3 linked regions of the Homo sapiens genome follow. The protein of the gene in region 3 interacts with the protein of the main gene of each other region in a pairwise test. Each region holds a gene or a part of one and is shown on either strand. Other genes may lie near its edges.

Region 1 (3,651 bases), on a different chromosome or scaffold from region 3:
TTTCACATTTTGATTTGCCTTTCTTATCAGATTTTTCTTTGCTTTGTTCTTTCCAATTGGAAAGATCTATAATAAGCTTGGGTTCATAGTAATGGTTAACTTCACTCTCTCTCCAAACTAAGTTATCTAAATATGATGATGACCTCGTTTTGTAGTTACAAGTATGGCTACACTCCAGATCACAATATTTGTTTTCATGATGATCTGAGTATTGCCAACAAGGCTCAGTAGAGTAATTGGTATCAAAAGCAGGATCCTCCAGATACTTTTCCCGATCTCCATCCAAATATTTTCGGGGATCAACTTGTACTTCTTCTTCATCAGTGACATCGGACAGAGCTCTTGGATCAAGCTGAACTTCATCAATATCAAAGTTGTTATGTACAGGCCAATCATGCTCTGAAAACTGACAATCATGATACCTGAAAAAAATCAATACACTAGCGTTATTCTACGTATATGATTTCATTTTCAAATTCACCGAGTACCTTCTATGTGACAGCACTGTGCTAGGTCTATGAGGGGATAATTATAGGAGAGTAAATATGCCTGCCTTGCCCTACCAGAACTTAGTCTTGATAGGAAAGCTCTGTTAATATATTTGGTAATTGCCAATGCAGTATGTAACTTCATTTCCAATTTGTTTTTTGTCCACCAGTTCCATGCAAACAAAAGACTTCATAGCCACAAAATGCAGATCTCAAATCTCAATCAGGTACCTTACAAATGTTTACTCTACAGTAAGGGCAACTAGAAGAGGAGGAGGTTTGCTAAATGTTTACTCTACAGTAAGGGCAACTAGAAGAGGAGGAGGTTTGCTGGAAAACTCATCACCATGAATAGCAAAAATCTCCCTGTGTATACGTGCTGCTGAATGCGCTATCCTATTACTGACATGTATAATCATTGAGGGAAAAGAAAAGAGATTAGATAACTTAGCTAGGTAAAATAGAAAATGCAGGTCAGGTGCAGTGGCTCAGGCCTGCAATGCTAGCACTTCAAGAAGGCCAAGGTGGATGGATCACTTGAGGTCAGGAGTTTGAAACCAGCCTGGCCAACATGGTGAAACCCCCACTACTAAAAATACAAAAATTAGCTGAACATGGTGGCGGGTGCCTATAGTCCCAGCTAGTAGGGAGGCTGAGGCAGGAGAACTGCTTGAACTCAGGAGGTTGCAGTGAGCAGAGAGATGGGCACCATTGCACTCCAGCCTGGCAACAGAGTGAGACTCCGTCTCAAAAAAGAAAAGAACCATTATTTAGGGGGTAGAAATGGACACATGGAGAAAAAAAGTAGTTTGCAGATTTGTGTAAACATACCATACCAATACATCAACATTTGAGGAGGGGGAAAAAAATTTCTTCTTAAAATCTTAAGATTAAAAAGATTGGCATTAGTGGTTCCCAAACTTGGCCATACATCAAAATCACCTGATGACTCTATAAGCTACCATCCTACTCTGAAGCATCAAAATCACCTGATGACTCTATAAGCTACCATCCTACTCTGAAGCAGAATTATATCTAAACTTCCCCAGAAATGTATTTATTTATTTATTTGAAACGGAGTCTTGCTCTGTCGCCCAGGCTGGAGTGCAGTGGTGCAATCTCGGCTCACTGCAACTGCTGCCTCCCAGGTTCAAGTGATTCTCCTGCCTCAGCCTCCTGAGTAGCTGGGACTACAAGAGCCCGCCATCAAGCCTGGCTTATGTTTGTATTTTTAGTAGAGACCGGGTTTCACCACGTTAGCCAGGCTGGTCTCGAACTCCTGACCACAGGTAATTGGCCTGCCTCAGCCTCGCAAAGTGCTGGGATTACAGGCATGAGCCACCGCGCCCAGCCAAACTTTCCTAGAAATCCAATTATTTCACTTTATGAAACATCAAAATATGGATAACATTATACACTAATGTTTAGACCTAAAAAAGTCTCTTTTACTGAACCTATGTTAAGTGTCCCCAAATTAATTGTGTCATTAGGAAAACAGATTCAAATACTGGCTGAGTACGGTGGTTCACGCCTATAATTTCAGCACTGTGGGAGGCCAAGGCAGGCAGATCACCTGAGGTCAGGAGTTCGAGACCAGCCTGGCCAACATAAAATCCCACCTCTACTAAAAATTAGCTGGGTACCTGTAATCCCAGCTACTCGGGAGGCTGAGGCAGGACAGTGAGCTGAGCTTGCATCACTGCACTCCAGCCTGCACTCTAGCCTGGGTGACAGAGTGAGATTCCATCTCAAAAAAAAAAAAAAAAAATCCTGCATCTAATATGAATCAAATACTTTTTATGTTAAGATATAACTACCACTGAGACACTGGAGATACTTTATTGGATATGACTGAGTCTTGTCATCTAACATCTTAAATTTTTGACATTCATAAAATCACAGTTAAAGGACTTTATAAATATGCCTTAATGACTTTGAAAATGTTTCAAAGTAGCATTTAACTTTTCCCATATATCATCTAACCAGTAATTACTTTATTAAATGTTTTAATTAACGGCTATTTATAGATATAAATATTAAGGACCATTACTAAATTTTTCTTTGAGATGGAGTCTTGCTCTATTGCCCAGACTGGAATGCAGTGGCATAATCTCGGCAGCCTCGGCCACTTGGGTTCAAGTGATTTTCCTGCCTCAGCCTCCAAGTAGCTAGGACTACAGGCGCCTGCCACCACACCTGACTAATTTTTGTATCTTTACATTACTAAATTTTTAAGACTTCTACAATGTCTTATACATAATTTTAAAAAAACTCACTACATATGGTCCACTGAAAGTTCAGTAAATATTATTTTTCTAATTTAGGATCAATTTACCTTTCCCAGTTATAAATGTGACTGTGAGTTTCATCCATAAGCAAAATATCATCAACTTCATCTTCAATATGAAAAGGATGGCTTGAAATTGGCTCATCCATTGGAAAAGAATATATGCTCATGTAAGGATGGGAGAGTGCTTCTTCTGCTGTTAACCGATCCATGGGGCTAAATGTCAAAATTTGTTCCAGGAAATCCAGTGCTGCAGAGGAAAAGGTAAAAGTTTTTCAGAAAAGAATTGCTTACCTTTAGAAAAACAGTAAATGTTGATCTCATTTATTTCAATGACTAGCTAAGTGATTACCTTAGCACTACATACTACACAACAGGAAATGAGCATCTTAATTGTACTAATAGGTCCCCATCTTATAAAAGGGAAAAATGGACTACACAATTAAAAAGTTAATTTGTCAGAAATAAAACTTACCTGATTTACAACTTAAAAACGATTTTCTGGCTGAGTGTGGTGGCTCACGCCTGTAATCCCGGCCTAATATATAGGTTTTAATCCTAGCTCTGCAAGTCACTGGCTTAACTCAATTACTAGCACTGTAGTGCTGGATAGGCTACTAAAACTTGATGAACATCAGTTTCTTCATGCATAAAGTAGACATAGATATTTCATAAGGTACAAAAATGAGATGTAATCATAGTGTCTGGTATGTAATAAAAGCCCTTTCCCATCCTTCACTGATGGGAAGTACAACAGTAAAACATCTCTGTTGTACTAATTTCTTGATCTCTGCTTCACATCACACTCCAGCATAGTTCACACACTGACCTTGCACATCTTAGGACTCTGGTTAACCACAAATCCAGTTCTTCCCA
Region 2 (3,651 bases), on a different chromosome or scaffold from region 3:
TCACTGCAGCCTCGAAACCGTGGGCACAAGCAATCCTCCTACCTCAGCCTCCTGAGTAGCTGGGACTACAGGCATACACCAGCACACTTGGCTAAATTTTTAAAAATATTTTTTTTAGAGACAGGGTCTCACTATATTGCCCAGGCTGGTCTTGAACCCCTTAAGCAATCCTCCCGCCTACGCCTCCCAACATACTGGGATTACAGGTGTGAGCCACTGCACCTGGCCCCTTTCTTTGTATTTGTATCCAGGTTGGTGCCTTATGTTTCACCTCTGTGAGCTGGAGAAGATGTTACCCCTATTGAGTCTGATTTCCTTCCCCTGCCTTTGAGCTTCTGCTCATCTATCACTTTCTCTGCCCAAACTACCAGCCTCCACTGGCTAACCCAAGCTGTTCTTCCTCTGAGAAACTTTCTCGGATGACCTTAGTTCAAACTGATACCCTCCAAACCCCTCGGTACCTCCTGTCTCTGATTTAGTACATGATCATGTACTCTCTCAGTCACTTTTCATTTCTTTATATCCTAGCTCCCAAACAAACCAGGAACTCTTTGAGAAGGAGGATTATAACCTGCAGTTAAAAAGAAGGAGTTTGAGTCCTCTTTCTGCTATATCCTATACTCTTCATAAATGTTTTGTGAGTGAGGATTAAATGAAATATACATGTAGAGAGCCTGACACCCAAAAAGTACTTAATATAACAGTCTGTACTGTTGTTATAAATAAATAAGAAAATATTGCTCTCTTTCAAGGGGGACTGTAGGATTGTTAAATACCAACCTGCCCTCATCTTCTGCAAGGAAGAGTTTCTTAAAGGCTCCAGTGGGTCTGGGGTTTTGGCTGTCTTGTTCACTGCCTTCCCTTCACACAGTTGTCTAACCCTCACTGCATTCTAAGTGCTTCTCTCTCACTAAAAGTTTCTACAACCATATTGCCTTCATTTATTCCCTTGCATTTTTCAGGCAGGACTTTACTTTCTCGTTTTCCTTATAACCTTGACAGTCACTTTTCAAATGATCCCATTTGGGGAAATGTGTAAAAACATAACATGCCACTGGTCCCCTCCTTTTTAGCCTCAAAGTCTGTGGCCCACTGAGTGCAAACTCAGATTGACACCAGAATTGCATCCTCTGGACACAGTGAATTAGCAAATTTCAATGGTCCAAGGAAATCTGAATGCAGCTCACTTTTTTCTCCAGCTTCCCAAGAGCAAAATCAGCAGTAATAACACAGTTGCAACAGTGATCCTATAATAATGCTGTTCTTCGATTGTGGAAAAGGCAGCAGTAGCTCCTCTGTAGGAAAACCTGGGTTTTACCACACTCCCACACTCCCACCTAGTGCCCACAAGGCCCAGAGTAAACGTTCTGTGACATGGCTGTCCACATTCAAGGTGGCCAACACCAAACAATGCCAGTTCTCTGTTTCCCAGAAGCAGCCTCTCTGACCTGGGGGAAAATCCAGTTTCATTGGCGTATCTTCAAAGATAAAAAATCATCATCTCTCTCTCTCCTTTTTTTTTTTTTTGGCAGAGTCTTGCTCTGTCGCCCAGGCTGGAGTACAGTGGTAAGATCTCAGCTCACTGCAACCTCTGCCTCCTAGGTTCAAGCAATTCTCCTGCCCCAGCCTCCCAAGTACAGGTGCGTGCCACCACACCCGGCTCATTTTTGTATTTTTAGTAGAGACGGGGTTTCACCTTGTTGGCCAGGCTGGTCTCCAACTCCTGACCTTGGGTGATCCACCCACTTCGGCCTCCCAAAGTGCTGGGATTACAGGCGTGAGCCCCCATGACTGACCTTTTTTTTTTAAGTGATCACTAAAAAATCAAACTAACAATCAATTTTCCCCTTCCTGTCTAGTTGATTATTACTGACCCAAGCAGGTAAGTTTTTCTTTGGACCATCTCTTCTAAAATTTCACAATGATCTTGCCCATCGACCTCCTAAAACCATCTGATGACTATATTCCCAGGCCAGCTCCTCTCTCCTTAGAAATGCTAATAGTATTCTAACACCAACACGATTCCTACACAGGTCTCTTTAATTCTGTGGCACTTTCTCTCTACCACTCTGCTCTGCCTTTCTGGAAGACAGTTTACTGACCTCTGTAATAAAGGATAGATAATCAGAATGCAAAATGGCCCCACAGCCTCTTTACAACACCTGGATCAGACCTTTCAAAGCAGTGCTTACTTTCCATCCTGGAAATAACCTGGGTCCTTAGCAGTGTGAGAGCCTGGAAAAGGAGCTCTTGAACCATGTTTGCCCAAGACTGGACAGCGGGCACACTTACCAGTGTGCTTCCTGCTGTGCATCTGTAAGTGGGACAGCTTAAAATATCTCTTATTGCAGCCTGGGTAAGCACACATGAAGGGGCGTTTCTCACTGGTCTCAGATGCCGACCGTACAAGAGTCGGGGCTACTCCAGGCACACGTCGCACATCCTGCAGGCAGAGAGTAAGAGGAAGGGAGGCTTTAAGCCACATGTGAACATTCACGTAGGTCTTGAGGGAGAGTGAGCACTGGAGTATATCCAAAGAAGGGGTGGCAGGTGCAGACCTAAAACCACTCCCATTCACACTCCAGATCCCCATGGCAGACATCAGTAATGGATGCTAGATCAGGACATTCTACAATGCAGTGCTCTAAGATCATCACTACTGAGCAACCAGAAGTGGCTGTTGAGATGAAACCTACATGAAATGGCTGTCCCAGAGCCTCTGCAAAAGAAATGCTGGTACCTGGAAGAGCTCCCAATCCATTCTATCTCTCAGCTTCTCCTCTTGAGGTAGTGATGTCTGCAAGTCCAAAGTCCCAAAGTCTAACTACTCCCTCCCACTTGGAGTCATGACCACATGACCTAGAGCCAGTCTGCAATGGGTGGGGACATCCTTATTAGAAAAAAGTGGGATAATGAATGAGCCCCTAACTGACCAGATCGTCCAAGTATAAGTAAATAACAAGGAAGAAGAAGCCCCTGGATTTGGGGATCCCATCTGTGAAAGGAAGCAAAACCCACCAGAAGGCCATGGTGAAGCCAGCACAACCTTTAATAGTGAGGCCAGAAAGCACTGGAATCCATCTGCCTTCTGTGCTCTGCACACGTCCTTTGCAGGGCATCTGTTGCTCCCCTTTATCTTGTGGAAGTGCAGTGTGTGTGTTGTCAGTCTTCCAAGAATAAGAACTGGAGGAAAACAAAGAGGCAAGCTCCCCTTCCTCTTCTTGGGGTCAGGGAGTCATAAATGGGAGCTGAGCAAGTGCCTGAGTGGCCACTAAATTCTCCTCATTCCTTTATAGATGAGTAAATCAACCCCAAAGGCGGTGAGATGCTGACACAAGAGTGCATCCATGTTTTGGTTTTGTTTGTTCTTAAGACAGGATCTTATTCTGTTGTCCAGGCTGGAGTGCAGTGGCACGATCGGGGCTCCTGCAGCCTCGACCTCACCAGCTTAAGTAATCCTCCCACTTCAGCCTCCTGAACAGCTGGGACAACAGGTGAGAGTCATCATGCCCAGCTAATTTTTTTTTTTTTTTTTGGTAGAGATAGGGTCTCCCTATGTTGCTCAGGCTGGTCTCAAACTCTTGAGCTGAAGGGATCCTTCCACCTTGGCCTCCTAGAGTGCTGGGATTACAGGTGTGAGCCACCATGCCT
Region 3 (3,751 bases):
GGCCTCCAGGACTGTGAGAGAGCCAATTCTGGTTGTTTTCAGCCCCCCAGAGAGTGGAAACTTGTTACAGCAGCCACGGGAGACTAACACACCATGGCTGGGGATGAGACAATGCCCCGTGACCACATAGCTCAAAAGCTTTGGGAAAGTCAGGGAGGGCCCTGGTGGGGCCTCATCCACAGCACAGGAACTGGCCGGACTTCTGCTGGGGTCTCACACTCCTTCCTCCACGCCCTGTCTGTGTTTGGGTCTTGAAGGGAAAGAACCTCAGGCCAGGAATCAGAGTGCCTGGGTGCCAGACCCAGCGACACCCCTCCCCAATCAGGCAGCCTTCAGGACGCAGCTGCTCTGCCCCTGCACAGAATGGTCATGAGGTTCACGCAGATAATGATGGAGAAGGAGCTGCCAGCTCAGGAAAGTCCTGGATAAACACAGGGTGGCGCTGGTCATTAATCCCCCCCGCCGTGCGCACCAGACAGAAGCCAGTGCCAGCAGAGAATGCCAACATGTGGGGCTCTACTGACATGCCCAAGGTGTTCAAGGCACACGGGAAGTGGATGGGAAACTGAACCATGCTAACAATTCTTTGTGCTTCTATGGCATGAAAACCATAGATGATGGCGTCTCATGCCTATTATCCTTAGAGCCTCCCAGTGACCCTGCGAGACAGGTGGAAATGGCAGGCATGTGGTCTGCATTTTACAGATGACACATCTGGTTCCCAGAGGCCAGGGACTGGCCCCTGGCCTGTCGCTGACTCATACTCCTCCAACTCCAAGCCCGGAGACCCAGGTCCCCCACAAATAGTAATTACACACACACACTCAACCACGCACGCACACACACACGGGTAGCAGGTACAGGAAGGAGAAAGGACCGGGAGCTCAGACCCACAGAGATGAGAAGCTGTGGTTCCAGGTGGAGAAGCACGGGGAAGGAGAACAGGTTTCCCTGTGTGCTCTGAGCGCTGCTCAGAAAGAAAACCTCACTGATAGGACCTCCACCCAGACCTCTTCCATCTCCTGTGGCCACTGGCTAGAGAATTCACCAGCAAAGCAAAACTGTTATGCTGTAAATTCCAGACAGAGGGTACTACCCAGCATGCCACCTTCTCTTTGATCTCCCCACCCCAGTGAGTCTAACTCTTCCAGGGGTCCAGACTCTGTGCCTTGAAAATCTCCTCCGCACCAGCCTCTTCTACCGCACACCTCCCTCAGCCAGCCCCATCTGTACCTCCGGGGGTGTCTCCTTGTCCTGGGTGTCCTGGATGCCTCCGCCGTCTGCAGACATTTTCTATTTCAGAGCTAGAAAGAACAGCTGAGTTGTTTCTCCCTCTTTTTGGCCAAGCCCCCTCCAGCTTCTGGCCAGGAGCCTAGAAGAGCAGACAGAAACCAGCCCTCGCTTCCTGGACACCCCCAAAGAGCCCTGAAAATCCCCACGAGTACCAGCGCTCCCTGGTCCCAATCGGAAAGAAAGTCTCCCAGATCCTATCCGATGGTCCCACTCTCTGTGATGTTTTCTGGGTCCTATTTTTGAAAGAATGCTATTTTGTATTGTCCCCTTTATTGCTGAAGCAAGAGCCTCGCATCTCAGTGTAACCGGCTCAGGGAAAGCCGAGGCTAAATTGGAATCGCTATTTCCTGTCATCAGGAGCAGAAAGTTCTGCAGAGATCCTGCAGAACAGGTGCTGGTGGGGCCCCGCCCGTCAAGGCCAGGGTAATCCAGGACCTGCTGTCCCCCGACCCCAGGACATACACCGTGTGTCCCTACCTGACTCCCATGCCCACCAGGAATTCAGAAATCAACCTGCCCGCTCTCAGCAGCCCCCCTGCAGCTGCAACCACCTGCCCCAGGCCTGGGATGCCCATCCTGCTCTCGGTCCTGGCAGACAATGTCCTTCTCCTTCCCAAACCCGGTCCTGGCCCCCTTCTCTCCTGCCAGCTTGAAGCCTTCCACCTTTGACCCCATCCCCTCCTGCAAGCTGATCATCTGCGCCGGTCTCGGGATCCAGATGCCCTCCCCAGCACCCCCTTCTCACCGGGGTGGAGGCAGAGGGGGCACCTGCGGCAGTGGGGGCCCCCTCCCCCGGGAAGGGAGTCTCCACAGCCTGCACGGGGCGGGCGGGGGAGTTGGGTGGAGACTGGGAGTAGGGAAGACAGGAAGTCCCTCCCAGATCCCATTCCCCATGCAGCCGCAGCCCTACAGCGTTCCCGGTTTTGAGGGTTCCGGGTGTGGAGTCTCGAGCCTGGGTTGCACCTGCTCTTGGCCGGGAGGTGACTCCCAGAGCCGCAATGCCAGCTCATGAGGATGGCTTTACCCAGGACGCGTTCATGATGCCAGCAAGGCAGAGCCACCAAAACAGAAAAATGGAAGATGCATTTTGTGGAAAGATTGTGTTATTTGAAATTTCAAAGCGAGCACTGCAGTTGTCCTCACAGGTAGAAAGAAGGGCATTTTGCAGGGTGGAGAGGGCAGGACCATTTATTTTAGCACTCGGGGTTTCTGAAGGTTATTGTCTCCTGAGGGACCCTGAATTCATTTAGGGACTCCTAGTCAAGGGCCCTCTGGGTCCCCCCAAGACTGGCACAGAACTCTCTCCCTAAGAGTGAACTTGGGAAACAGGCTGGGAACTCCCCCCAATCCGGATGCCCCACACCTTGGGAAGAAGTTGGTTAATCCGATTCTTCCAGGCCCATTTCAGCTTGGGGATAGAGGGTGTGATCCAGCTATAAATGGGGTTCTAAGTTCTCAAACACGCCTGGCAGCTGCAGATTCTGCCTCTCAGGCACCATTTCCCTTTAGACCCTGAGAAGTAAGGCCTCAAATAGAGAGGACAGAGACTGTGCTTTACTTTCTGGGGGAAGGAACCATTTCTCTTGGGCAGGCATGGGGGCTGGGTGTCAGGAAAAGGGCCAGGGGCCCAGTCCTGGAATCAGATTCCAGGAAGTTTCCCTAGGAAACGTCCCCATGCCACTGTCTTTGGCTCACCAGAATCCCCTGAGGTGCACAGCTTCACACAGTAAGATGGGCCCAGCTGCCTCTGTACCAGCTCGTGCTATGTTGTGTGGGCTTTTAAGGGTTTGTTTGTTTATTTATTTACTTATTTGAGACAGGGTCTTGCTCTGTTACCCAGGCTGAAGTGCAGTGGCACGATCATAGCTCACTGTACCCTCAACCTCCTGGACTCAAGCAATTCACCTCAACCTCCCAAGTAGCTGGGGCCACAGGCGCATGCCACCATGCCTGGCTAATTTTTTAAATTTTTTTGTAGAGATGGGGGTCTTGCTTTGTTACCCAGGATGGTCTTGAACTCCTGATCTCAAGCAATCCTCCCACCTCCCAAAGTGCTGGGATTACAGGTGTGAGCCATCATGCCCAGAGGGTTTAATTTTTTTTTTTTTTTTTTTGAAATGAAGTCTCACTCTGTGGCCCAGACTGGAGTGCAATGGCGTGGTCTTGGCTCACTGCAACCTCCACCTCCCTGGTTCAAGTGATTCTCCTGCCTCAGCTTCCCAAGTATTTGAGATTACAGGTGCCCATCACCATGCCGGGCTAATTTTTGTATTTTCAGTAGAGACGGGGTTTCACCGTGTTGGCTAGTCTGGTCTCGAACTCCTGACCTTGAGTGATCCACCTGCCTTGGCCTCCCAAAGTGCTGGGATTACAGGCGTGAGCCACCGCGCCCAGCTAATTTTGTTTTTTTTTTAACTTAGTTTCTAACATTAAAAAATTGACACTCATAAAACTGATT

The links.
Region 1: the proteins of ZNF205 (region 3) and MAPK6 interact in a two-hybrid assay, tested with the Homo sapiens proteins (one large-scale study listed by BioGRID and IntAct).
Region 2: the proteins of ZNF205 (region 3) and WT1 interact in a two-hybrid assay, tested with the Homo sapiens proteins (one large-scale study listed by BioGRID and IntAct).

Annotation. Positions count from the first base shown.
Region 1 is NC_000015.10:52,060,673-52,064,323, reverse strand, and holds part of MAPK6 (mitogen-activated protein kinase 6), read right to left. Parts: intron 3,026-3,651; coding exon 2,824-3,025; intron 423-2,823; coding exon 1-422. UniProt on the Homo sapiens protein: Atypical MAPK protein. Phosphorylates microtubule-associated protein 2 (MAP2) and MAPKAPK5.
Region 2 is NC_000011.10:32,393,965-32,397,615, forward strand, and holds part of WT1 (Wilms tumor protein), read right to left. Parts: intron 2,444-3,651; coding exon 2,293-2,443; intron 1-2,292. UniProt on the Homo sapiens protein: Transcription factor that plays an important role in cellular development and cell survival. Recognizes and binds to the DNA sequence 5'-GCG(T/G)GGGCG-3'. Regulates the expression of numerous target genes, including EPO.
Region 3 is NC_000016.10:3,110,970-3,114,720, reverse strand, and holds the start of ZNF205 (transcriptional repressor RHIT), read right to left. Parts: upstream 2,136-3,751; 5' UTR 2,039-2,135; exon of another isoform or gene 1,771-2,038; intron 1,373-1,770; exon of another isoform or gene 1,305-1,372; 5' UTR 1,291-1,304; coding exon 1,234-1,290; intron 1-1,233.